Regions from separate parts of the Homo sapiens genome. Here all the other regions are linked to region 5. Evidence: fine-mapped expression QTL. A gene starts in region 5. Each other region holds a variant in brackets. All regions are shown on one strand. Distances are between the middles of the regions. Region 1 overlaps GRAMD1B (GRAM domain containing 1B). Region 2 overlaps GRAMD1B (GRAM domain containing 1B). Region 3 overlaps GRAMD1B (GRAM domain containing 1B). Region 4 overlaps GRAMD1B (GRAM domain containing 1B). Region 5 holds the start of GRAMD1B (GRAM domain containing 1B). Region 6 overlaps GRAMD1B (GRAM domain containing 1B). Region 7 overlaps GRAMD1B (GRAM domain containing 1B).

The links. PIP is the estimated chance that this variant, and not a neighbour inherited with it, causes the effect.
Region 1: its variant is the best candidate, but not a certain one, in a credible set for the expression of GRAMD1B in whole blood (INTERVAL, PIP 0.89).
Region 2: its variant is the best candidate, but not a certain one, in a credible set for the expression of GRAMD1B in cerebellum (GTEx, PIP 0.73).
Region 3: its variant is the best candidate, but not a certain one, in a credible set for the expression of GRAMD1B in whole blood (TOPMed, PIP 0.81).
Region 4: its variant is the best candidate, but not a certain one, in a credible set for the expression of GRAMD1B in sun-exposed skin (GTEx, PIP 0.69).
Region 6: its variant is the best candidate, but not a certain one, in a credible set for the expression of GRAMD1B in tibial nerve (GTEx, PIP 0.60).
Region 7: its variant is the best candidate, but not a certain one, in a credible set for the expression of GRAMD1B in whole blood (Lepik 2017, PIP 0.76).

What each region holds. Positions count from the first base shown.
Region 1 is chr11:123,591,666-123,595,731 of GRCh38, forward strand. GRAMD1B (GRAM domain containing 1B) reads left to right here. Exons shown (of 20, transcript NM_001387025.1): 5 at 2,417-2,501; 6 at 3,070-3,173. Among named protein-coding and RNA genes, the nearest start is that of SCN3B, 61 kb to the right of the region's middle. The variant A/G (reference allele first, on the strand shown) is at 2,348.
Region 2 is chr11:123,571,136-123,575,201 of GRCh38, forward strand. The region is part of intron 2 of GRAMD1B (GRAM domain containing 1B); the gene reads left to right. Among named protein-coding and RNA genes, the nearest start is that of SCN3B, 81 kb to the right of the region's middle. The variant A/G (reference allele first, on the strand shown) is at 2,231.
Region 3 is chr11:123,483,150-123,487,215 of GRCh38, forward strand. All of the region lies in intron 2 of GRAMD1B (GRAM domain containing 1B), which reads left to right. Among named protein-coding and RNA genes, the nearest start is that of GRAMD1B, 55 kb to the left of the region's middle. RefSeq lists an enhancer at 1-40. The variant A/G (reference allele first, on the strand shown) is at 1,534.
Region 4 is chr11:123,542,516-123,546,581 of GRCh38, forward strand. The region is part of intron 2 of GRAMD1B (GRAM domain containing 1B); the gene reads left to right. Among named protein-coding and RNA genes, the nearest start is that of SCN3B, 110 kb to the right of the region's middle. The variant G/T (reference allele first, on the strand shown) is at 1,983.
Region 5 is chr11:123,428,106-123,432,171 of GRCh38, forward strand. GRAMD1B (GRAM domain containing 1B) reads left to right here and starts at 2,164. Exons shown (of 20, transcript NM_001387025.1): 1 at 2,164-3,061. The coding sequence starts at 2,688. LOC124902776 (a long non-coding RNA gene) reads right to left here and starts at 3,109. Exons shown (of 2, transcript XR_007062928.1): 1 at 2,842-3,109; 2 at 1-711. RefSeq lists silencers at 2,302-2,631, 2,742-2,791.
Region 6 is chr11:123,493,051-123,497,116 of GRCh38, forward strand. The region is part of intron 2 of GRAMD1B (GRAM domain containing 1B); the gene reads left to right. Among named protein-coding and RNA genes, the nearest start is that of GRAMD1B, 65 kb to the left of the region's middle. RefSeq lists enhancers at 415-931, 932-1,448. The variant G/A (reference allele first, on the strand shown) is at 1,781.
Region 7 is chr11:123,470,293-123,474,358 of GRCh38, forward strand. All of the region lies in intron 1 of GRAMD1B (GRAM domain containing 1B), which reads left to right. Among named protein-coding and RNA genes, the nearest start is that of GRAMD1B, 42 kb to the left of the region's middle. The variant T/C (reference allele first, on the strand shown) is at 2,261.

The sequences.
Region 1 (4,066 bases), 160 kb after region 5:
TAAATTGAAATAGGTGAGCCAGGCCCCGCCTTTGGGGGTGGAGGAGGGAGAGGGCTGGGGTCCCTGGCTTCGAGAGGCTGCATGGTGGCAGGCCCAGCATGCCCAACTGATGAGCCTGCCATGCACACAACAGCCTTGTGGAATAGGCTTGTGTTGGGAAGCCTGGATAAAGGAGTTTCCAGACTGGCTGACTTAGCAGGCCAGGGCTGGATTCACTCTCCCCTCTCCCTGCCACTGCTACAGCTTTGTTTTAAGGAAAGTAGCGGCCCCCTCGATTTGCCTGCGGGTTGGAGATGGTGGCCAAACGCCCTGTACCTCCACCTCTGTGGATACCTGAGCTATTACTGGATATGTGAGAAGCAAGGGGGAGAAGGCACTAGGACAGGAAATTAGAAATAGGAAGACTTGGGGCTTCAGGGGGTTGGAGGCCTGACATCCGGTTTCACCTGAAGTGTGTTTGGGGTCTCCTGGTCGGCTGCTCCTCAGGCTGACACTGGAACTCTGTAAGTATGAAGACCTAGTAGAGGGCTTGGAAGGCTAGCAGGGGCCGCAAAGCAGGTAAATATCTCATTCTCAAGGGAGTGTGCTCTTTTGGGGAAGCCCTTCTGCTTCCTCTTGGCAGGAGGACCAGGAGCAGTTACCCTCCAGAGGCAGCACAGAGTAGGGGCTCAGACAGCACTGAGTCAGACTGCCTCACTCATATTCCACTCCAAGTTGCTTAACTTCTCTGTTTCTCAATTTCCTCAAGTGCAAAATGGGATAATAAAAATAATCTGGGGTCTGATGCAGTGCCACATGCACATGGCTTATGGCTGTGCTTGGTAGGTGATGATAACTCCATGTTAGCCACATAGCAGCTCTAGAAGGTCAGTTAGGCATAATGAGAACTCACTGGCGATCAGGTGGTCAAGCTGGGGTTTTCAGTGTGTGGACTCTGTTCTAAGAGGCTAGGGGGCCATCTTGATTCCATATCTCAGTGCCAGTTTGAAACTAATATAGGGGCCAGAGGAATGTTGTTTTCTAAGTTTTTTGTTGTTGTCGTTTTGTTTTGTTTTTGTAGCCATTGGCTACACCCTAGGCTGAGGGTCAGCAGTGCTGTCTCTGTGTAGGTAGTCAGTGCATCACAGGTGGAGTGTGGGTGTCTCCGTTTGGCCGTGCGTGGCTCGTCCCAGGTTTTGCACTTGATTTCATCTGTCACCCCCGGTGCTCCTCATTTGTGGGCACGTATTTTCTTTTTAGTTTCTTTTTTATTTTATTTTTTAAATTTAAGATTGTAAGCCCTCGGGTCGGGCGCGGTGGCTCACTCCTGTAATCCCAGCACTCTGGGAGGCCGAGGTGGGTGGATCACTTGAGGTCAGGAGTTTGAGACCAGCCTGGCCAATATGGCGAAACCCCATCTCTAGTAAAAATACAAAAATTAGCCGGGAGAGGTGGCACATACCTGTAGTCCCAGCTACTCGGGAGGCTGAGGCAGGAGAATCGCTTGAACCCGGGAGGTGGAGGTTGCAGTGAGCCGAGATCACACCACTGCACTCCAGCCTGGGTGACAGAGCGAGACTCTGTCTAAACAAACAAACAAACAAACAAACAAACAAACAAGATTGTAAGCCCTCAAAGGGCAGGATTTCTGTGTATTCAGCTGGCTCATGGGATTTCCAAGGAGGATTTGCTAAGGCAGTTTCTGGGTATCATGTTGCAGTGGGGGGAAGTGAGCACAGGACCAGGGGTCATGAGATCTGACACTGACCAGCTGAGGACCTGGGGCAGGGGGCTTCTCTCTGGCCTTGGTCTCTTCCTTGATGCTGTAAGGATTGGTTTAGATAATGTAAGGATGGAGAGGGGAGTTGGATGCCTCTCGTGTGCCCGTTGTGTTTTTTTAATTCTCTATCTCTGCGCTTATTGCAGTACTGGTTTTATGTGATTTCTTAGAAAATCATGTCTTTCCCACACAGCCAAGTGCTCACTCTGATAATCACGACAACACCTTCTTCTGAGAGGTGCTCTGGGCAACATCATGGGGGGCTGGGCAGCCTTCTTGGGTCCCTGCTTCACTGTCAAGGTGGTGCTGGCAGAAGGCAGAACAGCAGTAGCTGGCATGGTGGATACCAGGAAGCACCCTGGAGGTGTCCCTCCTTCCTTTCTCTTACGGGATATAACGAGAGCCCCTCCTTGCTGTGTCTGGCATTTCTCACTGGTGGAGGCCCTGGCTGCATAGTGTTTCCCAGCACCAGATTCTCCCCACTGTGTTTCTCCACACCGAGGCGCCGTTCCTCAGCCTGGCCTCCTAGGGTCTGTGGGAGGGCAGAGCCTCATCTTTGCTTTTTAAACACACAAGCAAGTGCTCCTC[A/G]TCTTGCCCTTCCTTCCTAACCCCACAGAACCGGGGTACATCCTACTAACCTTGGCTATTGTCACGCAGGTGTTAAGCCCCACCTACAAGCAGAGAAATGAAGACTTCAGAAAGCTCTTTAAGCAGCTTCCAGACACGGAGCGCCTCATTGTTGGTGAGTTGGGTGACCTGGGAGGGGATGGGAAGGAAGTCTGGGGAGCCCCCGGCATAGCACTCAGGGTGCTTCTCTCTAGAGGCCTCAAGCCAACCCAGGTAAGCAAGGGAACAGGGAGAGAGGCTGTCCAGACCCCTGGCCCCAGCTGTCAGGGCTCGAGGCTGAGTATCAGGCTTGTGGCAGCCTCAAGAGCCCAACCTGGAGTGAGTCACTGGCATTTTTATCTCTGCAGTTGGCCCAGTGGCAGAAGGGGTTAGCATAGTTGTGGACTGGGGAGGGAAGTTAGTTGAATTTTGTTGGTCTTTTCCACCTCTTGCTTCCTTGGCCCACTTTGCCTTCACATTTATTTATCTGCCTCTAGGCAGTTGCACATCACACCACCTTTATGCTCCTCATCATGAGATGGTAGGGACTTCCTTGGCTGCTAGTTCAAGTGTCTGGCACCCCTTGTCCGTGGTGGGCATTGGGCTCCCCCAGTGCTGGTGGGAGGGATGACATGCCTACTCTGCAGTGGTTTGCCGAAAATGCTTCCTGCCTCTGAGCTCCCCTACCTCCGCTCCTACCACAGATTACTCATGTGCACTCCAAAGAGACATTCTCCTTCAGGGCCGACTCTACCTCTCTGAAAATTGGATCTGCTTCTACAGCAACATCTTCCGCTGGGAAACTCTGGTAAAGACCTGGGCATGCTCCCTTGGGCTGTCTCCTTGGCTATGGCTGAGCAAGCTGCCCTCGCTTTCTTCCTTTTGCTGACTTCATGCTCTTCCCAAGCCTTTGCGTAATTAACAAAAGCATGCCTGAGTCTTGAAAGATATTCAATTCTAAGTCCCAATAATCAGGTCTCCTCTGCCATGTCTTCCCCTCCCTCCCTCCCCTTTGGGTGTGGAAGAGAGGACTGGGAACATTTGCTTTTGTCAAATGCAGGCAAATATTTGGCATGAGTGACTGCAGGAGGAGGCATAGTCAAGTAGAAAGGGCTTTGGCCTTGGGACTTTAAAGAACCGGCTTGCACAATTTCTGGGTTCTGTAACTAATCAGCGGTGTGATTTTAGGCTAGTCCTTTCTTTGCCTCTATTTCCTCATCTCGTATACTAAGGAAGAGAAAGATTAACTAGATGATTTTTTTTTTTTTTAAACAGAGTTTCACTCTTGTTGCCCAGGCTGGAGTACAATGGCAGAATCTTGGCTCCCTGCAACCTCCGCCCCTGCCCCCAGCCCCTGGGTTCAAGCGATTCTCCTGCCTCAGCCTCCCGAGTAGCTGGGATTACAGGCATGCGCCACCACGCCCGCTAATTTTGTATTTTTTAAGTAGAGACGGGGTTTCTCCATGTTGGTCAGGCTGGTCTTGAACTGCCGACCTCAGGTGATCCGCCCGCCTCCGCCTCCCAAAGTGCTGTGATTACAGATGTGAGCCCTGTGCCCAGCCTAACTAGATGATTTATATGGCCACATCCTGCACCAATATTCTGTGTTTCTGTAAGTGGCAAATAATGGCAGGACCTCTGCACATTTAGCAGACTGTATAGAAATTAGAAAGCTCTTTGCCCAAGAATCAAGATACTCAT
Region 2 (4,066 bases), 140 kb after region 5:
CTGAAGGCAAACAAGTTAACTCAAGTGATGAACACCGGAACACCAACTAACTATTCTGCTCTACTCAGGATTCTGAAAAATGCACGGGTAGCTGATCAGGGAGCTGGCTTGCTGACAAGGTCTGCCTTGTGCCTGCAGGACCACAGTGGGGATAAGGATGAGGAAGAAAGCCAAGCAAAGTGGTGTAGCGGCCACCGTGTCTGCAGTGGGCGTGGGGGGTGAGGGTGGGGGCAGGGATGCCGCAGAGAGTCACTGAAGAAAGCCTGAAGAGAGTCCTCATCCTCTTTTTCTACTTCCCTTTTCTCAAGGACATCAGCTAGACCTAACTATAGGAGGTAGGATCAAACCATAGGTAGCATGAGATACTGTGATCAGACTTCAGGGAGCACTGTTTGCTAGCAAGGTAACCAGGGGAGGAGAGCAATAATAGTCTGTGTTGCAGGTCTTAAAAAGAGGGGAAATGGGGAAATGAATGAATGACCTCCGGGTCCCCTGCCATGGCTTAAAGGTGGCTGGTGGGGGTCTTAGAAGACCTATTATGAATGAGAGCTGATGATTTCAGGAATCTCTAAAACATCAGCTTGAGCATGTTATACCTGGTGACTCATGGTTTCTGTCAATGTTCCATATATCCCATGCTATTTTATGCCTTTTCACCCTTGTTCATGCTGTCCGCCACCCCGAACATTCTCTTCTCTCCTACCGTGCCCTCCTTGAACCCCGTACCCTTCACCTGGCTAACTCCAACACATTTTCTGAATCTAGCTCAAGTGCCACATCCTCAAGGCAGCATTTCTTGTTTTCCTTTATTCTCTTCTATCATCCCACCTACTGATTATATTAACACGGGAAGAATAGGCCTCTAGCTCTTCCTGACTGGAAATGTCCCAAGCACACAGATCCTTTCTCATTCACCAAAATGAACTTGAATGCCTCACATATGCCAGGTGGTCAGGAAATATTTGTGGAACTGAAGAGCCAGATCCAAAGTCATATCACCTTGTCTAGGTACTTAACCCCCCTAGACTCAGGTTTCTTACATGTGAAGTTGAGAGCTGAATATACTAACTCTAAACTCTGGGAGGGAGTCTTAGTCCCATAGCCCATCTAACACCAGTCTTCCTTCCATCCCTACAGCATATGTAAGGTCTTTTTTATTTTTAGCTCTTAAATCCCAAGATTTTGAAATATAATGCAATCCTGTTATTAATAATAGTGGCAGGGTCAGATGAATGGCACATTATAAAGTTGGTTTGAAACTTTATGTTATGTTATGCATGTTAGGTGTTAGAAGATACTCAGGAATTGGTTTTGTTTGCTCAGCAGGACATCCAAATCCATGGGATAATGGGTTAACTGGTAAGAGTTTCAGGACTCTAGCAAGTTTAGTGCTGACTTTGCTGAGTTAGAACTAGAACTGCAAACATTTCTTCTTTTGTAGAGAAGGATCAGAGTGGAGGTAGAGCACCGGGTGGGGACATGTAAGGGGTATATGTGGGCTTAGTCTGGAAGTGTAGATGTCCATCAGGTAATTGGAGGGAGAGAGAGAGAGAGAGAGAGATTGCTGAGACATGGAAGAGTGAGTGTGTATGGCAAAAGGATCTGCAGACAGACCCCAATGGCTGAGGCAGAGGCGCAGGTAGGCCCCGATGGCTGGGGCAGAGGCGCAGGTAGGCCCCGATGGCTGGGGCAGGGGCGCAGGTAGGCCCCGATGGCTGGGGCAGGGGCACAGGTAGGCCCCGATGGCTGGGACAGGGGCGCAGGTAGACCCCGATGGCTGAGGCAGAGGCACAAAGAGGCCCCGATGGCTGGGGCAGGGGCGCAGGTAGACCCCGATAGCTGAGGCAGAGGCGCAGATAGGCCCCGATGGCTGGGGCAGAGGCCCAGGTAGGCCCCGATGGCTGGGGCAGAGGCGCAGGTAGGCCCCGATGGCTGGGGCAGGGGCGCAGGTAGGCCCCGATGGCTGGGGCAGGGGCGCAGGTAGGGCCCGATGGCTGGGGCAGGGGCGCAGGTAGGCCCTGATGGCTGGGGCAGGAGCTCAGTTAGACCCCGATGGCTGAGGCAGAGGTGCACTGGAAATGTAGCCAGTGTTGGGGTTTTCAGAGGTAGGCTGAGTGAGATAATTGAGGAACATATAGTCTAGAGTTCAGGTTTTATTCCACAGAGGGTGGGAAATTATAGGGGTCTTTAATCATCAAAAAGGATGAAAAAAATGCCAAATCCTCTTTTT[A/G]GAAAGTTCACTTTGACAGGAAAAGAGAGAATGGATTGAAGCCTGGAGGCAGGAAGTTGATTCCTTCTTTCTTTGTACTCACCCAGCTACCCACTGTCTTTCCATCTGTGCCTCTTTCTGTCCACCGGGCAAACAAACACAATTGAATGCCTGCTTCCGAAAATGAGCTTGACAATCAGATAGGCCTGTGTTTGAAAGTTTGAAATCTTGCCCTGCCTCCCATCCATCTGTGTGACTTTGGGTGAATTATTTAATCTGTCAAGAATCCAAATATATCACCTGAAAAATGGGACTAATAATACTGTTCTTTGCAACTTCATGGGTTTGTTGGGGGGATTAAACGAAATAATATTTAATAAGTACTCGGTGCTGCACCAGGAGCTCATGAACACTCAATAATGTTTAGTTATTTTTATGAATATTAGCAGGTTGTAGGTACAGATTTGGGAGCCATCTTGATATTCGGAATTGGTAAAGCCAAGGGTATGAAGACTGTCACTAGGATGGGATTCAGTTCAGCGGAAAACATGCCACTTACAGAGCCCTGCTGGGTCGTGTGGGGCGTGCAGAGGGCTGAGCCTCCAGGAGTTTGTAGGTCCTTCATACCAGGCTATGTGCTTTCAGTGCTTTAGTCAGCTCCAAGGTGGAGATTTAGAAAAGCTTTTTGGAGCAAGTGGGATTTGAAATGGGTCTTGAAGAATGAACAGAATTAAAAAAAAAAAAAAAAAGAAGAAAGAGCAGGACTCCAGCAGGGAGATGCAGAGGGCAAGGGCTCTTTAGGCTCAAGTAGTGCGTCGTATGGGAGTTTGGAGGCAGGAGAAAGAGCATGTATATTAAGGGAATTGGGGGAAAGTGTATAGGTGTGGAATATGCAAGCCCTTTAAGAGCATATAAGGAGAGAAAAAGCATAGAGGTGTCATTTACTTTTAGCAGAGAACTTTAGATTCCATTTTGAGGATTTGGGACTTTAATGTGGGAGCTACTAGAACACAGTAAGATGTTGGGCTTGTATTTAGAAAGATTAATGACACAGCTGTGAGTGAGTAGGAAGAGGAAAAGGAGGCAGAGAAGACCACTCAACTGGCTATTTATTGGAAGAGGGTGAGCAGAATTCCTTGAACCTGAACTGGGGCCCTGGGGAAGGAAGGGAAGGATGAGGTAAAAAGCTTTGTAGAAATAGAATTGGTGGAATTCAGTGACTCATTTTTTAGTGGAGTGAGATGGAAGAGAGGGGTCTGCAGCCTGAGAAACCTGGTAATGAAACTGCCATTGAGAATGGGCAGTCGTGGGAGGAGGTCTGGGAGGAAAGATGTCCAGCTCTGTGTTCAGTGTGGGGCACTCATGAGACATTGTCTGGAGGAAGCATCCACCTGGCAGCAGGTTGTTGGGTCAGGCTAGCGACTGTGACCAGGGCCGGAAGCAGGTAGAGGAGTCTCTGCCTGGTTGAAGTTAGAGAAAGCTGGAGACGGCCAGGGAGGTGACAGACTCACCTTTAGGGAAGGATTAATTGCAGGCTGGGTAGCAAGAGTTGAGACAGTAGTTGAGACCGGCAGAGGAGTAGAAGAGAGGTGCTTGTCATCAGGGAGAAGTTTCCAAGAACAGCACAGATGATCAACAGCCTTAAGAGCACAGAGAGATGGTATAAGTTGTTTATTGGCTGATGTGTTGAAGGCAGCATTTTAGGTGTGTAGATCTTTGCATGGTGTGTGTAGAGTGGGCTAAAGTGGGACTGCTGGGCGGTGAGGAGTTCTCATGCTTTGATCATTTCATGTGAGATTCGTGTGGTTTTGGATAGTTGGAGTCAGTTCTCCTCTGGTTAGAGTGTGTTGCCAACCT
Region 3 (4,066 bases), 55 kb after region 5:
TGCAGCTCAGGATAAGAAAGCACTCTTCCATGATAGAGCTGTACTAGCTTGGATTTTCTATCTGAGAACTGAGAACGAAGTGACTAACGGGTGGGGCATGTATACAGCGTGGATATGCTGAACAAAGGGATGATTCACGTTCCAGGTGGGACAGCAAGCGATTTCATCGTGCTTCTCAGGATGACACGTAATTTGAAACTGATGAACTGTTTATTTCCATTTAATATTTTCTTTTCTTTTTCTTTTTTTTTTTTTTTTTGAGATAGGGTCTCTGTCACCCAGGCTGAAGTGCAGTGGCGTGATCTCAACTCACTCCAACCTCTGCCTCTAGGGTTCAAGTGATTTTCCCACCTTAGCCTCCTGAATATCCAGGACTATTGGCGCCTGCCACCATACCTGGCTAATTTTTGTATATTTTTGTAGAGACAAGTTCTTGCCACATTTCCCTGGCTGCTCTCAACTCCTGAGGTCAAGTGACCCGCCTGCTTCAGCCCTGCAAAGTGTTGGGATTACAGGCATTAGCCACCACTGCATTTAATATCTTCTGACCACACTTGACTGTGGGTAACAAACCGCAGATAAGGGGGGACTGCTGTAATCTCTCCCCTTCATAGGAGTGTTCAAGCAAAAGCTGGGTGGTGTGTCAAAAGGGATTTCGTTCTGGTTGAGAGAGTGGAACCTCTCTAGTCCTTATTTCTTTAGATTATGAAGTCTTGTGAGTTCTGCCCTGGTTCTCAGTTTTATGCCCCCTGTTAATCAAAACAGTTCAGCTTATCAATTTAGACCGACGTATATGGAGACATGGCACTTCCAAGGAGCAAAGACTAATCATTCTTGTCAAGATGCTTAATCAGGTACGATCTGATCTGATGGCAGTTCTCTCAGTCCCTGGAGTACCCTCCACTCTCTGTGCAAAGCTTTCTAGATTGCAGCAATCATAATCTCAAAATTAGAAGAGGCCACAGAGGTCGCCCAGCACAGCCACCTTCCCTGTGCTGTGCACCAAACATCTCCAGAAGTATACTGTCCGTTTCTGAGCGTGATGTCTTTGCCTGCTCTTCTTCTACCAGTTCTATGATTGACAGTTCCTCAACTCACTTTATATTATCTCTGCTGCTTGGGGCATTCCTGGAAGAGATGAGTAGTGCTGAGATGCATATACCCTAATACATTTTCCCCAAGGACATAGCTGCTTGCTAACTAGAGAGAACTCTGCCTTTTGTTTGGTATTTGGGACTTTACACTGATATAAATTCTATTCTAATTTCTCCTCTCTAACCACTCACTCCTCCAACCACAGGAAATGTTACAAAGGTTCTCCCATCTAAACCTCTGCCCAGAAAAACTCTCTCGATTTCTTCCCGGGTCCTTTGTTCCCATCCTGGCCCACTCGCAGTCCCCTAAGCTCTTTATGGTGGATGGGGATGTTGTTTTGCATCAACTCGCTTTGGAGAGTATGAGGAACAGAGAGAATGTGGTCAGAAGTATGCTTCCTCTGGTGGTCCCTGTGACCGGCCCCCCCTCCAACCCCCA[A/G]AACCTCAGAAATTGGCTCTAGTATGTGTTCACTCACCATAGCCCTTCCGAAGAAAGTCTTTCTTCTCATCTTGGCTGCTGGGTTCCTTCTCCTGGAGAGAACAAGTTTCCGGAGCTCAAATTAGTCTCCCAGGCTCAGCTCAGAACTAACTTACGCTCTGCACCTAATTCTTCCTACCCAGTTAAGAGTCTCCAGGTGTTTAGGACGTTGATCTGTGATGTTCTGACCTGGGGTGAGATTGGAACCCTGGGGAGATGTGGGCAGTGGCGGGCATCTGGCCTGTGCTCCTCGTTCTGGCCCCCTCTGAGGGACAGTGCACCAAGCTGTGAATGGCGGCATTTCCTGCACTGGTGAGGCCTCCCTGCAGTCATCTTCTTTACTCTTCGTAATGCCCCTGGGTGGCAGATGGAGCTGGGTAGTATTGTCACTGACTGAAAACGGTCAAGGATGAGGTGGATATTATGGATTTTTTTTCTGTGGCTTCTTCTAATTTTCCAAACCATATCATCAATTGTAACATGAAAGATTGTTTCATAGAGCAGGCAAAAAAATTAGCATTGATTTCTTCTATTTTAAAGATTCAAATTAAAATCTTTCAGTACCAGATGCACTTTCAGCTGGTTTAATAAAACATTTTCTTTTCTTGCTTTTGTGTAAGGTTCAGAACGGTTATAGTATTCAGAGACTACGTAGCTACCTTACTCTACACAGCAGTGGGTGGAATACCTTAATACGGTGTTCAAACCTAAGGATTTCTGAGAAAGATTTTTTCCTTATTCACATTGACGCTCTGTCCTGAAGGAAAGACTTTGGAACCTTGACAGGAGTAGAGCGTAGGTTGAAGGACTGTGACATACATTTGCTGAGTGGGTGTGGCATCAGCAAGAAGGGTTGATTTTTATGAAAATGTGTTTATTAGGAAATGGAGATTGTCTCAGAGATAAGAATAATTCTTCCAGGTGTCCAGTAGAAAGCAAAATAGGTAACTTCCCCGAAGTGTGTGTGTATGGAATATAGGACATTAATTCATTCTTTTTTTTTTTTTTTTTTTGAGACAGAATCTTGCTCTGTTACCCAGGGTGGAATAGTGGCATGATCTTGGCTCACGGTAACCTCCACCTTCCAGGTTCAAGAGATTCTTCTGCCTCAGCCTCTCGAGTAGCTGGGACTACAGGTGTGTGCCACCATGCCTGGCTAACTTTTGTATTTTTTGGTAGAGATGGGGTTTCACCATGTTGGCCAGGCTGGTCTAGAACTCCTGACCTCAAGCAATCCACCTGCCTCTGTCTCCCAAAGTGTTGGGATTACAGGCGTGAGCCACTGCACCCAGCCTGATTGTGCATTTGTAAAGTCAATTTACTTAGTGTTACTCAACCCTCAACCTTAGTTTCCTCCTTTGTAAAAATTTGATGTCCATTGGATTTTCTTGTAAAGAATACATGAGAAAACATTCGTAAAGAGCCATTAAGTGGATGCTTAATAAATGGTAGCTGCTTGCACTCTGATTCTGGCTATCATAACATTTTACTCTCAGTTTCCTACCAGATCTTACACCCTTCTGTTCTTGACAAAGCAGAGACAAAGCCGGGCACCGTGGCTCACCCCTGCAATCCCAGCACTTGGGGAGGCCGACGTGGGTGGATTGCCTGAGCTCAGGAGTTTGAGACCAGCCTGAGAAACATGGCAAAAGCCCGTCTTTATCAAAACTACAAAAAATTAGCCGGGCATGGTGGCATGCGCCTGTGGTCCCAGCTACTTGGGAGGCTGAGGTACAAGATCCCTTGAGCATGGGAGGCGAAGGTTGTAATGAGCCTAGACTGTGCTACTGCAGTCCAGCCTGGGTGACAGAGTGAGACCCTGTCTCAAAAAAGAAAAAAAAAAAAAAACAAAAAGAAAAAGCAAAGGCAGAAAGAAAGTGTAGAATATTGAGCATCTGCAAATGTCACATATTTAGACTCCAGATAAATAGATTAAGTTGTGGTATTTCCCCTCAAGAAGCTGATTCTCTTATGGTGTGATATACTTACAAATAAACAAGTATAATATAATGTAATAAATGACTTAAGAAATTATGCGTAAGGTAATAAAACTGAAGAATTTTACAAGCTGGGTGTGGTGGCTCATGCCTGTAATCCCAGCAATCGGGGAAGCCGATGGGGGTGGATCCCTTTGAGGCCCGGAGTCTGAGACCAGCCGCCAACATGGCAAAACCCTGTCTCTACTAAAAATACAAAGATTAGCTGGGTGTGGTGGTGTGCGCCTGTAGTCCCAGCTACTCAGGAGGCTAAGGCTGGAGAATCACTTGAGTCCAGGAGGCAGAGAGTGCAGTGAGCTGAGATCGCACCACTGCACTCCACCCTGGATGACAGAGTGAGACTCTGTCTCAAAAGAAAATAAATAAAGAAGTTCACTAAGTGCTTACTCTGTGCTTAAACCTGTGTAATAAACCTTGCATACATTTTTAAATATATTCCTCTCAACAGCCTTATCAGGTACATGCCATTATCTGCATATTAGAGTTTAGGAAAACCA
Region 4 (4,066 bases), 110 kb after region 5:
ATTTATCAGGGAAGTCTCCCTGGGGAAGAAGCATTGGGAGCAGAGCTTTGAAGAAAAGCTGGGACCACATAGGGTGGGTTTGTGGAATGAGGTCATTCTATGCGGAGAGAATGATGCCAGCAAGTAGGTTTTTGTTTTGTTTTGTTTTGTTTTTTAGACGGAATTTTGCTCTTGTTGCCCAGGGTGGAGTGCAATGGCATGATCTTGGCTCATTGCAACCTCCGCCTCCTGGGTTCAAGCAATTCTTCTGCTTCAGCCTCCCGAGTAGCTGGGATTACAGGTGCGTGCCACCATGCCCGGCTAATTTTTTGTATTTCCAGTAAAGACGGGGTTTCACCATGTTGCCCAGGCTGGTCTTGAACTCCTGACCTCAGGTGATCCACTCGCCTCAGCCTCCCAAAGTGCTGGGATTACAGGCATGAGCCACTGCGCCCAGCCTGGCGAGTAGTTTTTCTTTTTCTTTTTTTTTTTAAATTGAAACAGTGAAGTGAATTTGTTTCTTCCCTGTCTACCTCCTTTGCACTTGATTTCACTGTTTCCTCATTCTCAGCTTACTTTTTATACCTCTCGATTTTACTGCCGTTAAGAAATTGTCATTTTGCAGTGCTCGAGCTTCTGGGTGGGAAGACACCAGGGAGCAGGAAATAAACACATCTCAGAGAGCCTTCTGAGAGAACGCCAACCATAGCCTCTCTGCCAGCCTTCACTGCCAACCAAGGTAGAGGTGAAATGCTTGCTTTCTAAGATTTACCTGGAGCATGGTAGGCACTCCCCTATTTAACTGGATCAGTGAAAGAATAAAAATATACATGGACTTTCTGAGATGTGTAGCTGTTCAGGAAGCTGGTAAAGAACAGACCTGAAACCTCTGTGGCCAGGGAAGTTGGATAGGGGATGGACATTTGCTATGAAGGACATTGGTGTGGACACCTTGGGGGTGGCCATTCAACCCTCACTAAGTTGGCCAAAGGAGGAAACCCTGCTTATGGGCAGCTCCCACTGTCACATAACAGCAAGAAAAAGAAACCTTTGAAGTGGAGAGAGATACCTATAAACTCTGGATATGAATGCTGAGGAAACCAGAATAGAGAAGTCAGTGCAGTTGGCTGGTGTTAGCCAGAAACTTTTCTTGGAAGTCAAGTAACTGGGTAAAATACTTGCATTCCTAAGGTAGAAGGTCAAGAAATAGGCTTCTGCCTCCATATCTTTGATCCCATTTCGCAGAAGAATTCGCCATTTCCTCCACTGATGCCATCCTTTATCTCAGGGGTCAGCAAACTTCAGCCCGCTGCCTGTTTTTGTAATTTGTTCTAGGATGTAGTCACAGGCTTTCATTTACTTGTTGTCTGTGACTGCTCTTGCCCTATCACAACAGAGTTCAGTAGTTAGGACAGACTGTGTGGTCTGCAAAGCTTAAAGTATTTACTGTCCGGCCCTTTGCAGAAAAAGTTTGCCGACCTTGCTTTATATTGTTAGCAGTTGAATAATTCTGAGTTGTTTTTCCACAAGACTCATGGTGACTCATGGTTTGCACCAGCCCGTGCAATTTTCTTAATGAGGGCCTCCTTTGCTCATGGCATTATTTGCAAGATGATTTACTAGAACCAGGGGTGTGGTCTGGGAATTAGGCCTTTTGAGGAGAGATTGAACATCTGAGCTGCCTACAAGACACACATGGAGTGGCTAGTGCCCTAATAACAGACAGTATTTGTTTCTGATATTTATTTACTGCTCAATGTATGCCAATATTGTAGAGAAATCAAGGCTAAGAAGTTAGGAAAGGTACCCAAGGTCAAGTACCAGGATTTGAACCCAGTCTGCAGAATAAAAGCCCTTGCCCTAACCACCCCACTGCTTCCAACCAAACCCCTGACCACCTTTCCTTCCTAACTCTTTCTACTCTCTACTCTGTTCTCTTTGTGATTTCTGGGCCAATTGTCGGTTAGCCTTTGCTCTTTTAGTTCATATATGTCTCTCTTGGA[G/T]CATTCACTCCTTGGCCAGTTTTCTTTTTGACCCCACCCCTCCTCCTGTAGGTGGCTTTCCAACCTTGCTCCAACACCCATTTCTTGCTAACTCTCCCTGGGAGGAAAACTTGAGATGCACAGGAGGTCCTGGGTTCCCTCCACATCAGCCATTCCTGCCCTGTCACTGAGCATTGCCCACAGCGGCGGTTGTCATCCAGGTGCCCTGCCTTCTTCAGAAGCCAGCAGGTGCACAGAGAACCAGCTGGAAAGGGCATTGCCACCAGGGCCCCCGGGCCCCAAAGTGCCAAAAAGGCAGCCTCTGGATAGGCTGAGCTGGCATTTCTGACCTTTGTGTAGAGAGGACGTCCTTAAAGGGACAGCGAGCTCTTTTCTTTCCTGGTGGCTGACTGCCAGTTCAGATGCCAGGGGTTTGAAGAGGCCATTGTTCTGGCGATGGGAGATAGGGGCCAGACCGCCTAGTCTCTTTTTCTTTCCCTGTTACCAACTGCCTGTCTCCCTCTGATGTGCAGCGTGTCAAGTGTGGAAGGACAGTGGGCTGTCTTTGGTCACATACCCTCCCCTCCTCTGAAGGCAGCCTTGTCACCGAGGCTAAGGGACAGAATTGCCTCACAGCCACCAGCTCCCCTCCTCCAGGGCAGCCGCCCCGGTGCGAGAAAGAATGGTCTCTGCAGACTTCAGTGAGGTGCCCGCATCAGTTTCTGTGCCCCAAGTGGGTGGGGTGAAGTGGGAGGACTGCAGGCACCCTTTCTCCAGTGCCTTCCTTTCCTGCCCCACCCACCCTAGAATCGCCTTAGGTGCTTGTTAAAACTACAGATTCTGGGTTCCAATTCCAGAATTTCTGGGCCCCGGGAATCCGATTATCAATAAGCACACCACAGTTTGAGAACCACTGACTTAGTGATTCCCAAACCTGGCTAGTCATCAGAATCATGTGGGGACCTAGTCCATCAGAATATCTGCCTGGGGCCCATGAATTTGAGCAGGGTAGCTTCTCGTTAGTGGTCAAGAGCAGGTATCCTGGAGCCAGGCCCCTGGGTTTGAATCCTAGCCCCACCAGCTACTATCTGTACGCTCTTGGGTAAGTTTCTCAGCCAATCTCTGCCTCTTTTCTCACCTCTAAAATAGGCTTATGATAGTGCTCATTAAATAGAATTGTTATGAGAATTAAAGGAATTAATATTTATAAAGTTCTTACAACAGAACTGCCTCATTGATAAGAGTATTATGTAAGTTTTCATGAAATCTTTCTCTTTTTTTTTTGGTAAACTAACTGGTCATCTAAGTTGGAGATCACAATTTGAATAATCTCTTATCAGCAAGGTTGCCTGGCTAAGCTGGCTTTTCTGTGTGCTTTACTAAATGACCAGCAATTCTCTGAGCTGAGCCCAGGCTAGTCCTCAGTTCAGTCTGCGTGACTTGTTCTGCAAAGGCAGCCCTGTCATTTGTCCTCCCTGCCTTGTGGCTTACAGAGTGAGGAGAAAAATCCCTTCCTGGTTTCCACCACCAGGCAATGTGGACAGCATCGGCAAGTCTGTCCCAGGAGGGCCCAGAAGCCACATCTACAAGGCTCACTGACCTCTTTGGATGGAATTGAAGGAAAACAAGCTGCAGGCCAGGAATAGCTAGACATAAGTACAAGGTATTATAATTACTACCCACGCCCAAATTGGTCCCCTGAGTTAAATTTAACCCTCTGCACAGTCTTCTGACCTCAGGGAAGGAGGATGGACAGAAGTGTCTGTGGGGGATCGGGGTGGGTGTAGCCAGGAGTATGTGGGAGGCATTACCCTTGGGAGCTCTGTCAAGCCAAAATGGGCACCACGGTTCAGCACGCATCCAAGCTTTTATTATAACTTCCTGGTTTTGCTCAACTACTACTTTTCTGAAAATGATGCTGTTAGACTACATGTCTAGTATTCAGCTCAAGGTTTCTTTTTCTTCTTGTACTCTTTAATCTCTCTTTCTATTCACTACTTAGGAGACTTATTTGTCCAGCTGCTTATGAATATGGCATGAGGTATGTGGAGGTTGGGAGAGATGGCCAACCTGGGAGGACTGAGCTGCCCAGCTTCAATCTGCCC
Region 5 (4,066 bases):
GGTGTCCTGGCTTCCTTTCTTCCCATAAGCCCCTGAGACCCTCATCTTCTATGTCAAGAGCCCGCCCAAAACTCAGGTTCCTTGAACTGGGAAGTTATCAGATCCCTTGCAAAACACTCGTCCTTGGAGGAAGTACAAGGCAGTGAACAAACTCTGTGGAACTTGGCTTAGCTCCCGATCCTGAAGTTTGGAGTTACAGTGCAATCTCCTCAGCATCCCTGGAGCCGGAAGAGGTGACCTTGGCAGGCCTGACACCTGATGGCAAGGGGTTTCTGCTTTCTGTGCTATGTCCAGGAGTTAAAGTAGAGTGAAACCAAATCACTCCTGAGAGGGCCAGTGGCTGGATTTCAGAAACGGGGGCTGACATTCCAGGGAGTCATTTATGGGAGGGCCTGGCCTTGGCTCTTCAGCCGCAGTATCTCTCTCCCTGAGGAAGAAATATTTCCCTTGGTTTCCCAGCCTCTCAAAAGTTGTGTAATGTCAGGATGCCTTGAGCTTTTCCATACTTGACAAGTGTCATTGCAGAGCTTGGTAGATCCATAGCCAGCTGTCATCCTTGATGTCTTGCTGAACTGCAGGGATGTATTTACTTGCAGTGAATTCTTGTGATCTTTAGGGATGTGAATTTTCCTCAGCTTCGGGACACTTGTGAAATGTGACTTTTGTCCTGGCACGGAAGCTGGGCATTGGCTCCCAGATGGAAACTGGACTCTGAGAGAGGCAGAAAAGAAGGGTGGATCAGATTGTGGACTTCATGGTATGTTCTTGGGTGCTTCTCATGATCTCTTTGAAAGTTACTGACCAGGCTGGGCATGGTGGCTCATGCCTGTAATCTCAGCACTTTGGGAGGCCAAGGTGGGCAGATCACTTGAGGCCAGGAGTTTGAGACCAGCCTGGGCAATATAGCAAGACCTCATATCGACAAAAAGAAATAAAACTTAGCTGCGTGTGGTGGTGCGCACCTGTACTCCCAGCTACTCAGGAGGCTCAGCTGGGAGGACAGCTTGAGCCCAGGAATTCAAGGTTGCGGTGAGCCATGACTGCACCACTGCACTCCAGCCTGGGCAACAGAGTGAGACTTTGTCTCTTAAAAACAAAACAAAACAAAACAGTTACTGACCCAAGAGACAAATGCATTGGGCTGGGGTTGAAGGAGGAGAATGGCTGCTACAGCCCTGCTCTAGGAGCTGGGCTGGGTTAGACTCAGTGCCCACAGAGAGCACCTAAATAGGATGGATCGGTTCTAGGGTTGATGATCTCTTAGGGCCTGGGTCTAGAGAGTGAGTGTGGTTCAGCACATCTTGGGATGCTACCAGGACTGAACCAGACTTCCTAGGTTCCATGACATGGGGACATACTGGATTCTGTGACTCAGTCCATGGCAGGCTGAAGCAGAACTGAATCAGCCCTCAGCAATGTAAGGGGGGGTACCCTCGACTCCCTGGGGCTCTGTTGGATGCATTGCTTTGTGGGTGCTCACCGACTCCTCATTTCATTCTTTGCTAGGGACGCGGCTATGGTACTGGCAGCTGGCTCATGTACAGGGTTCAGGCCCCATTTTCCTTACTGGTCCTGTGTCCTTTGTCTCTCAGACCCTGTTGTCTGTCTTTCCTTGGTATGTCATGTCTGGTATCCTCAGCTCACGCCGCCACGGGAGAACTGTCCTCTTCTCAGCTTGTCATTTTGGAAGCAGCCTCCAGCAACCTTGCTTTCCTCCTCTGACTATACTCCGGCCTGCAGTGCCACTACTCACGCCCCCAAATAATTTAAACTGCCTTTCTTAGGAGACAAGAGCTAGTTGAAAAGTCTCCTCATTTTCCTTCAACCCTGTATCATGGGTGGCCTGAGAGAGTGAGGACTGAATTCATTGACTCCCCTTTCTCTGCACCCCCCACCCCCAAGGAAATAGCCGAGTTCGACTAATGGGAGTTGCCTGGCCAATCGTTGCCCTGAGAAAGTTTGGTTTGTGATCCTATTTCAGTAGGCTGATTGGAGCAGCCTTTACTTGGAGGTCGAGTCCCTCCCCGAGGGAATCCGTGTACAGTTACACTAGCGGTCGCTGCCAGTGCTAGCCCATTCAGGATAGCCCCCCTCACCCCGCCCCCAGCCCCCGCTCCTCCTCCTCCTTTTTTGTTTTTATCCAGTGTCTCGCTTCCTCTCTCTCTCTCTCTCTCTGTCTCTCTCTCCCTTTCCCTCCTACCACTGCCTCTTCCTCCCGCTCTCTACCTCCCTGCAGCGCCAAGCCGGCTCCCCAACCTGGTCTGCTGAACGCAAACCGCTGAGAGTTTGCTGCACCGCCCCCTGGGGCCCCTGGCTGCCGAGTCCCGCTAAGGCAAAGACGCCAGCAAGCGAGGAAGCGCAGCGGAAGAAAAACAAGCGGGCGCGCGAGGGGAGCCCCAGGAGGGCTGCCGAGTGGCTGGCAGGCGGCTCCCGCCCCTCCCGGGTGGCCTCGCCGGCGGCTGACGGCCCGGAGGACGCGCGCTCCGAAAAGTTAGACTCCGGGCGGCGGCGCGCTACGCCGCGTCCCCTCGCGTCCCTTCCTCGCTGCGCTCCGGGAAAGGAACTTGTTCCTTCGGCCCCAGGATTGGGGAGTGTGCCGCGGGGCCGAGGGTGGGGAACAGCCAGAGGGAGACGCGAACCAGGCCGCTGGCGGAGGGCTCAGGGGGAGCGCAGAGGCGACGGCCCCCATGCCGGCGGCCAACATGATGGAGAACCGGCCGCTGCCCGCCCTGCAGGTGCCCGAGCCGCAGGGTGCGCCCGAGGGCAGCCCGGTCTGGTCCAGTTCGTCGACCCCCACGCTTCGCCGCCGGCGCTTCAAGATGCGCCGCATGAAGAACGTACAGGAGCAGAGCCTGGAGGCCGGGCTGGCCCGGGACCTGCCCGCCGTCTTGGCCCCCGGCAAGGAGTTCCTGCAGCTGCCGTCCATCGAGATCACGCCCTCCAGCGACGAGGACACCCCGTGGTCCAACTGCTCCACACCCAGCGCGTCCCCGCGCCGAAAACGCTTCCTCCTCCGCAAGTGGCTGAGGGTGAGGGAGCGGAAGGAGTGCAGTGAAAGCAGGTACGTCCCCGTTCCGCCCGTCTCCTTCCCTTCCCTCCCGTCCTCTCCAGAGCCGTCCAGGGCCCCGGGGCATTCTGGGGGAAACGTCCTGGGGGAGAACAGGAGCCCGTCACCAGAGGCGCTTCTGGAGGGCGCTGCGCCTGGTCCCAGGGATGGTGGCATTCAGCTTCCACGCGTGCCACCCGCTCCCCAACTCAGGGTGAGGGGCTTCATGTTGCACGACACGTTTACGTGGGGCTTTACGCTGCATTCCATCTCCCTTGATCCTCGCAGCGAAATAAATAATAAAAATAATAACAGCTAATAGTTATTGAGCCCTTACCATGTGCGGGCCACTATGTTGCGCACTTCATGTACCTCCAGATTTCATCCCTACGCAAACTCTCTGAGGTAGGTATTACTATGGCTCCCTTTCTACAGAAGGAGATAGTAAAAGGCCAGAGAACAGTTAAGTGGTTTATATTTCAGGACTCCGTTTCAATCTTATTTTATGTTTGGCCACACCGGATTGCCTTAACTGGCTCACTTGTGTGGAAGTGAAATATTGACATTGAGTGAGTCACATTTCCTACCATATCAGAGTCTTTAGACATCGATACCTACAAGACTGTGGTTTGTACCAGCTAGTTTTTTGCCTAGGTCAATGTGGCATCTGGGTAATGGGAGAAGGTTGAGCTTCCCTCACGTAGAGAATTGCTGCAGGGCGCCCTAGAGCAGCTCTACACAGCCCTGGTCAGGACTGCTGCTTCAGGAAGTTGTGTCTGAGCCAAGCCCCTTGCCTGGTGGAGGGCAGGGAGTCCTCACTTGTTCATCGGTACCACGAATCCTACATATTTACTTTGAGACTTTAGGGTCCTGTCTCTTAATGGATTTGTGTTCTTGTGCGGAGCAACTGAGTCATTGATCACTTTCCCTGGAATTCCTTCTCCAAATCTGTTCAATTACATTGATTTCAATTCAGTAAGTACTTACTGAATATTTCTGTGAGCTCAGTCTAGTAACAGC
Region 6 (4,066 bases), 65 kb after region 5:
TCTCAACAGATAATGGTAGAATAAGGAAGTCTCTGATCCTGTGATGTGGTGCAAGGACAAGATTCAGTAATGGCTGCGGGGAACTCAGGTTTTGGAGACCAAAATACCTTAGTTTAAATTCCAGCTCTGCCACATCCTGGCTGTGGTGCTTTTGCAAAAACATTTCATCCTCTCTGAATGTTTCCTTTCTGAAAAATGAAGATAATTGTACTTACTTTATGGAGCTTGTGGGGATTGAACTGAGATAAAATAAGAAAGGCACTTAGCACTGTGTCTGGACGTAGCACACAGTAAGTGGCAGCTTGTGTCACTGTCAGCAAATAGTAGGCCTGGGCTTAGCCTGCAAGGGGTGTGGAGAGTGAGTTTTGAGCAGGAGGTTTGCAAACTTATTAAGGGAAGCCACACATGAATCCATGAGAAGTAATGTTTGACTTCCCAGTTGCCAGGGGAAGCCAGTTATATAAACTCTGGTCCTCACTGTCCTGGTGAGAGACAGCTGCCTTGAGGGTGGGGTGAAAAGCCCAGAGTGGCAGTTGTGTGGACGGGCTTCCAGACCTACCCGCAGGCAGCCCACTCGAACTCCATGTGGAACGTGGGCCCAGAAGGTGTTCAGCTTGTTCCAGCTGATTAGGAAGAGGGTCCCATCTCAGAAGAGGCTCACTTTGATTAAATTCTGCAGTGGAAGTGTCCCTTTGTAAACAGCTTCAGTAGAGGCCCCAGATGTTCCTATTGTTCAGATCCCAGGAACAATGTTGTTAATAGTGGTGCTGTTGGTGGAGAGGAAGACCTGAGTTCTTCCTCCCTGTTAGTGACTCATCACTCGAACTGCTCTCAGCTCAGATTCCTCACCTGGGAGCTGTCACATCTCAGAGAGGCTGCCTCTTACCCCTTTGTCCCAGTAGGGTTTCTCTCCCTCACTTGCATCAAAATAAATGGCTTATTTTCCATTTTAGCATTAATCACATTATAATTGTATTTATTTGTTGACTTGATCATTGTCTGTCTCCCCAACTAGTCCCTAAATTGCATGAGAGCAGGGACCATCTTTGTTTTATTGTGTCCGCAACACTTAGCACAGTGCCTGGCACATAATCATACTTAACTACTTACTAAATGAGTAAATGAACCAATGAATAACCATATACGACTTTTTGTTAATGCTGACATTCTAGGATCATGGAATTTCGTGACTGTAGCCCAAATGGAGGGCAAAGACTGACCTTTACACATCTATTAACCTTTTTAAACTTTTCATGCTCATGGAAATGTTTTGATCTGTGACCACCTCTCACATGTTCCCCTTTCTCTGATCCACCTGCACATATGCTTAGGGGGTCACATGGTCTTGTGGAAGACAGCACTTAAGGCCTTTTTTTTTTTTTTTTAGGTCTGAGCTAAGCTCTGACTTTTGAGGGCAGGGCAAAGAAGCAAGTGAGTGCTCCTGTCTTGCTCCTGCTTCCCCAAGTTCCCAGCTTAGAGCTCCTCTTTAGCAGTCCTGGCTGCTTCTGTGGCTGTCAGCAGAACTGTCTGCAGGTGTAACCATCACCTGCTCTGTTTCTCCTACTCTAGCCCTTCTTCTTTGTGCCTGAGAAAGGGGGGTTGTTAATTATAGCTCAGCAAACTCCTCTTATCTTTGCTGATGCCATAGTTGGGATTTAGATTTGGACAACTGGCAGGATGGATGGTAATTTTTATTCCCCAGCTTCCCTACTTCCTGCTGGGAGAAATTCCATCCTCCTACCAGCCTCAGCGAAGAAGGAATGTGAGTGGGTGGCAACTC[G/A]GGGGCTCAAAACAGAGAGTCCGATCTTAGGCTTGTCCTGCTCTCTGCTGCATTCTTTGCCTCCCTTGTACTCCAGGGTTGAGATGAAGTCAGGGGATAAACTGCTGGGTTCTCTTTTCAATCACTCACTGATTAATCATGTAAGCTCGGGAGAGCTCTTTACTACTCCTAACTTGCTCTTCTAGGTATTGAGGAAGTCATTGTACCAGAAGTTGATGCTCCGGCTTGGATTCAAACACCTATCACTAAAATTGTTTGAGCACATACCATATGTATATATACATACACACACACACACACACACACACAGACACACATACACACACACATAAATTATGTGTGTACTTCTGTACTAAATATTTTATGTATACTGTAATATAATGAAACAAATTTTAATAAGATGGAATAAACATAAATATAAATACAAGCCCTAATATGCTTTTTAAAAAATTAAAAAAATTCCATGGATACATAGTAGGTGTATATGTTTATGGGTTACATGAGACACTTTAATACAGGGATGTAATAGTCACAGCATGGAAGATAGGGTGTCCATCCCCTCAAGCATGTATTCTTTGTGTTACAAACAATTCAGTTATACTCTTTTAGTTATTTTAAAATGTACAATGATTATTGACTATAATCACCCTGTTGTGCTATCAAATACTAGGTCGCATTTTTTCTATTTTTTCTGTACCCATTGATCAGCCCCACTTCCCCCCACTTTTCCACTACCCTTCTCAGCCTCTGGTAACCATTCTTCTACTCTCTTTCTCCATGAGTTCAATTGTTTTGCTTTTTAGTTCCCCCAAATAAGTGAAACCATGCGAAGTTTGTCTTTCTTCTTCTTTTTTTTTTTTTTGTCTTTTCTTGTTTTTTATTTTTTGTGCATCGGTTGTGTGTTTTTTTGATTTGAGGTCACTATGAGGCTTGCAAATACTATCTTATAACCCATTATTTTAAACTGATGACAGCTTAACACTGATTGCATAAACAAACTAACAAACAAAAACAAATAAAAACTCTACACTTTAATTTTGCTTTTTAGCTTTCTGTTGTTCTTTATGTCTTATTGTACTTTCTGCGTCTTGAAAAGTTGCCATAGATATTATTTTTGATTGGTTCATCATTTAGTCTTTCTATGGAAGATAAGAGTACATTATACAACACAATTACAGTGATATAATATTCTGTGTTTTTCTGTGTACTATTACATGTGAGTTTTCTACCTTTAGATGATTTCTTTTTGCTCATTAACATCCTTTTCTTTCAGATTAAAGAACTCCCTTCAGCATTTCTTATAGGACAGGTCTGGAGTTGATGAAATCCCTCAGCTTTTGTTTGTCTGGGAAGGTCTTTATTTCTCCCTTGTGCTTAAAGGTTACTTTCACCAGATGTACTATTCTAGGGTAAAAGGTTTTTTTTTTCCTTCGGCACTTTAAATATGTCATGCCACTTTTTCCTAGCTTGTCAGGTTTGCACTGAGAAGTTTGCTGCCAGATGTATTGGAGTTCAATTGTATGTTGTTTCTTTTCTCTCGCTGCTTTTAGGATCCTTTTTTAAAATCCTTGGCCTTTGGGAATTTGACTACTAAATGCCTAAGCTAGTCTTCTTTGGGTTAACTCTGCTTGGTGCTCTATAACCTTCTTGTACTTCAATATTGATATCTTTCTCTAGGTTTGAGAAGTTCTGATATCATCCCTTTGAATAAGCTTTCTACCCCTATCTCTTTCTGTAAGGCCAATAACTCTTAGATTTACCCTTTTGAGGCTGTTTTCTAGATCTCGTAGGCATGCTTCATTGTTTTTTATTCTTTTGTCGCCTCTAACTGTATTTTCATATTTCATATAGTCTGTCTTCTAGTTCACCAATTCTTCCTTCTGCTTGACCAGTTCTGCTATTAAGAGAGTCTGATGCATTCTTCAGCATGCTAGTTGCATTTTCCACCTCTAGAATTTCTGCTTAATTCATTTTAATAATTTCAATCTCTTTGTTAAATTTATCTCATAGAATTCTGAATTCCTTCTCTGTGCTATGTTAAATTTCTGAATTTCTTCAAAACAGCTATTTTGAATTCTCCGTCTGAAAAGTCACATATCTCTGTTTCTCCAGGACTGGTCCTTGGTGCCTTATTTAGTTTGTTTGACGAGGTCATGTTTTCCTAGATGTGGTGTTGATGCTTGTAGATGTTCTTTGGTGTCTGTGCATTGAAGAGTTAGGCATTTATTGTAGTCTTCACAGTCTTGGCTTGTTTGTGCTTATTCTTTTTGTGAAGGCTTTTCAGGT
Region 7 (4,066 bases), 42 kb after region 5:
TTTCTTATTTAGAAGACAGTTACTACTTACAAAACTGCCGAGAGCAGCTCATATTTTTTTTCTTTTATTTATTTTAAAAATAGAGTTTCACCATGATGTCCAGGCTGGACTTAAACACCAAGGCTCAAGTGATAACCCCACCTTGGCCTCCCAAAATACTAGGATTACAGGCATGAGCAACCATGCCCAGCCAACTCACATTTTTCTTTCTTTCTTTCTTTTTTTTTTTTTTTTTTTTTGAGGCGGGGTCTCACTCTGTCACCCAGGCTGGAGTGCAGTGGCACGATCTCGGCTTACTGCAACCTCCACCTTTCGGATTCAAGCAATTCTCCTGCCTCAGCCTCCCAAGTAAGAGAACACAAGAGCTTGGAACACAAAAAGTAAACTAGGAAGGGCTACCACGTTAAGTGCTGGATATTAATTAACTTGCTTAATCCTCACAACAGGTCTGTAAAGTTGCTTACATTTTGACAGATAAAAGGATGGGAATGTAGAGAGAGGTTAAGAAATTTGCTCTGAGTTGCTAAGAAAACAAGTGGCCAAGCTAGAACTCAAATCCTGGGTTTGATCCATACCAGTGCTGTCCAATAAAGTTTTCTGCAGTGATGAAAATGCTCTCTATCTGTACTGTCCACAATGAAGCCACGAGCCACATATGGATGTTGAGTACTTGAAATACTGGTGTGACTAAGGAACTGCATTTTTAATTAATTTAAATTTATGTAGCCGCATGTGACGAGTGACCACATCGTTCAGTTCTGTGCTCTGCTATCTTTGGGAGTTATCAGCATATTCATAATAATTGAAGCCTTGAGTGTGATAAGATCTCACAAAGAGATGAATTGCAGTAGATTTTAACCTCATATGGGCCCAGGCATATTTGAGAATCTGATGAAGGCTGTAAACTTCTCTCAGGAACATATAGTATTATTGCACATTATATTGATAACAATTTCAGAGGTCCACAAAACTTAGGTTTCCCTGATATAAAACAGGAAGAAGCAGGAACCCAATAGAATGTAAACTCCTTAAGAGCAGAGACCTCATCTGTGTTGTTTACTGCTCTATACCCAGTATCTAGATTCTAGAACAATGCTTAGTACATAGTTGATGCTTGGTAATTTTAAATGAGTGTCTGAATGAGTCCCGGGAAACATTTTAGGACCAAATAGAAGAAGAGCCCAAGAAACTTCCCCAGAAAAAGAAGTGAAAGTAGGACAAAACGCAAGAAACAGGGGAGAGTAATGCCAGAGAATGCAAGAAATATGCGTTTCAAGAAGGAGAATAGTCATCAATGTCAGACCTGCCTGGCTGGTCAAAGATTAAGATTTAACTATTGTCGTTGGTCTTGGTGTAACAGAGGTCCCTGCTGATAAAACCAAGGAGAGGTAGGCTTGGGGTGCACATTGCAATAGATTAATTCATAAAGCAGTGGTGAAGAAGTAGGGGCATTGAGTATAACATCCAGTGAACCTCAAATCCTGGTTGCCCCCCAGAATCATTTTTAAGCTTTTTAAAAATACGTATACCTGGACAGGTTCATACTCCGACTTCATACATTTGGAGAGGGGCCAAGGAATCTGCATAGTAAAGCTCCTGAATTTATTATAATATTGTTTTAATGGAAGTTCAGCAATTACAAAGTAGTATGTATGTTCTTGCAATAAAATGGCCATCAAGAGAGGAAAACTAACGCTGGGTGTGGTGGCTCATGCCTATAATCCCAGCACTTTGGGAGGCCAATCCAGGTGGATCATTTGAGGCCAGGAGTTCAAGACAAGCCTGGCCAACATAGCCAGGCATGGTGGTGCGGGCCTGTCATCCCAGCTACTCAGGAGGCTAAGGTGGGAACTTGAACTCAGGAGGCAGAGGTTGCAGTGAGCCAAGATCATGCCACTGCACTCCAGCCTGGGCAATGGAGCAAGACTCTGTCTCAAAAAAAAAAAAAGAGAAAAAGAAAAAAGAAAGAAGTGGAGAGAGAGCCTTTTCTTTTGTTAAACACAGACATGGGCATGTTCAGAGGTGAACTATTTTATTTTTTTAGTGATATGGTTTCACCCTGTTGCCTGGGCTGGAGTGCAGTGGTGTGATAATAGTTCACTGTAACCTTGATCTCTTTGGCTCAAGCGTTCCTCCCACCTCGGCCTCCCCGGTGAAGCAGCGTTGTTGTCTGGGGTAATACCCAAGGTTCGTCATCTCATGCCAAGAAAATTAAGGACACAGACACACATGAGGAGTGAGTTTAGGAGTGAAGGTTTAA[T/C]AGGCGAAAGAAAGAGAAAGAACAACTCACTCTTGTGAGAGAGAGGGGCACCCAAATGGGAATTACGCCAGGTGCTGTGGAGTGCACCAGATTTTTATAGACAGGCTTGAGGAGGTGGTGTCTGATTTATATAGGGCTCACAGACTGGTTGGACCAGGTGTGACGTTTACATAGCCCAGGGGGAAGGCTGGCCACTCCACCCTAATCTTATTATCCAGATGGGCTTTCCACTTGGCTGGCACCATGTTGTCTGCTCCTTACCATACATGTGGCTGGCAAAGAGAAGGGAAGATGGAGCCACCATTTTGAACATGCCTAGTCCCAGGTAGCCTTTTCCTATTGGCACAACTGCTGGCATTCACCCATGGAAGCTTCCAGCTTGCTTGTCTATGTCTGCAGCTAAATTTTACAGGCTGCTCTTTGTTAGAAAAGAAAATGATTTGGGGGATGCTTTTCATTAACAGGAAAATCTTACGGAGGACTTCCTTACCCTCACTATCTGCCTAAATAATTTCTTCTTTTATTTTTTGAGACGAAGTCTCGCTCTTGTCCCCCAGGCTGGAGAGCAATGGTGCAATCTTGGCTCACTGCAACCTCTGCCTCCGGGTTCAAACAATTCTCCTGCCTCAGCCTCCCGAGTAGCTGGGATTACAGGAGTCTGCCACCATGCCTGGCTAAGTTTTGTATTTGTAGTAGAGACGGGGTTTCACCATGTTAGCCAGGCTGGTCTCGAACTCCTGACCTCAGGTGATCTGCCCACCTCGGCCTCCCAAAGTGCTGGGATTACAGGCGTGAGCCACCGTGCCCTGACAATTTCTTCTTAACTCCCATATCACCAGTAGCTAGGACTACAGGCACACACCACCACACCGTGCTAATTTTTGTTTTCATTTATTTTTTGTAGAGATGAAGTCTCACTGTATTACCCAGGCTGGTCTCAAAACTCCCGGGCTCCAGAGATCCTCCTTCCTCAACCTCCCAAAATGCTGGGATTACAGGTGTGACCCACCTCACCCAGTCCCAAGAACCATTAAATAGAGAAGTATTCATGAGTTGTAAGGAGCTAGGAAGATATTTAGCTGGATTTTGAATCCCTGAATCTTTGACCAGGGATTCTACCCACCTTGCTGCAGGTTCCCATGGGAGCTATTAAGCAGAAGTGAACCTTCTAACTCGGTAGACAAATTCTCAATATTCACCTCAAGTATGTTATTTCTAAGTGGTGTTTGAGGATATTGAGGGATGTTCTGTAAGGAGGTGGCAGTACCCCAGTCACATTTGTTTACTTATTTTCTATTATTAGACTTGTCCATACCTGCTTGCCAGGTGGCACACAGAAACTCCTCCTTTATTCTCTCCATCTTTGCTACCTGCCTTCTCTTCCCCCATACACCTTTCCTACTTAAGCTGAAATAGTAAATGCCAGAGTCATTTTATATGTAGAAATAATTTAGCATGAAAACCCAGCTCTCTCTTCTGTCAGTGGTGGTGAGGCCCTACTTTTCAGGCTAAGGGCCTTTTCTGTTATCTTTCTCCCATGCACTGGCTATTTCAAAATATTCTGACACACTAACTGAATACTCAGTGTAATAGATATCCACCATTTATGATACACTCACCAAGGGCCTGCTACTGCCCTAAACATGTTCTACAGATGATTTCTACCATTTCTAATCCCCACTGCAATGTTTTCTTTTTTTTAACTTTTAATTTTTTTTAAAGTAATGGCAATCTTGAATCCAACAGAACTGCAGTCTTTTAAGGCATGCATTATTACCCACATCTGACTGTTAGAAAAGTGAAATA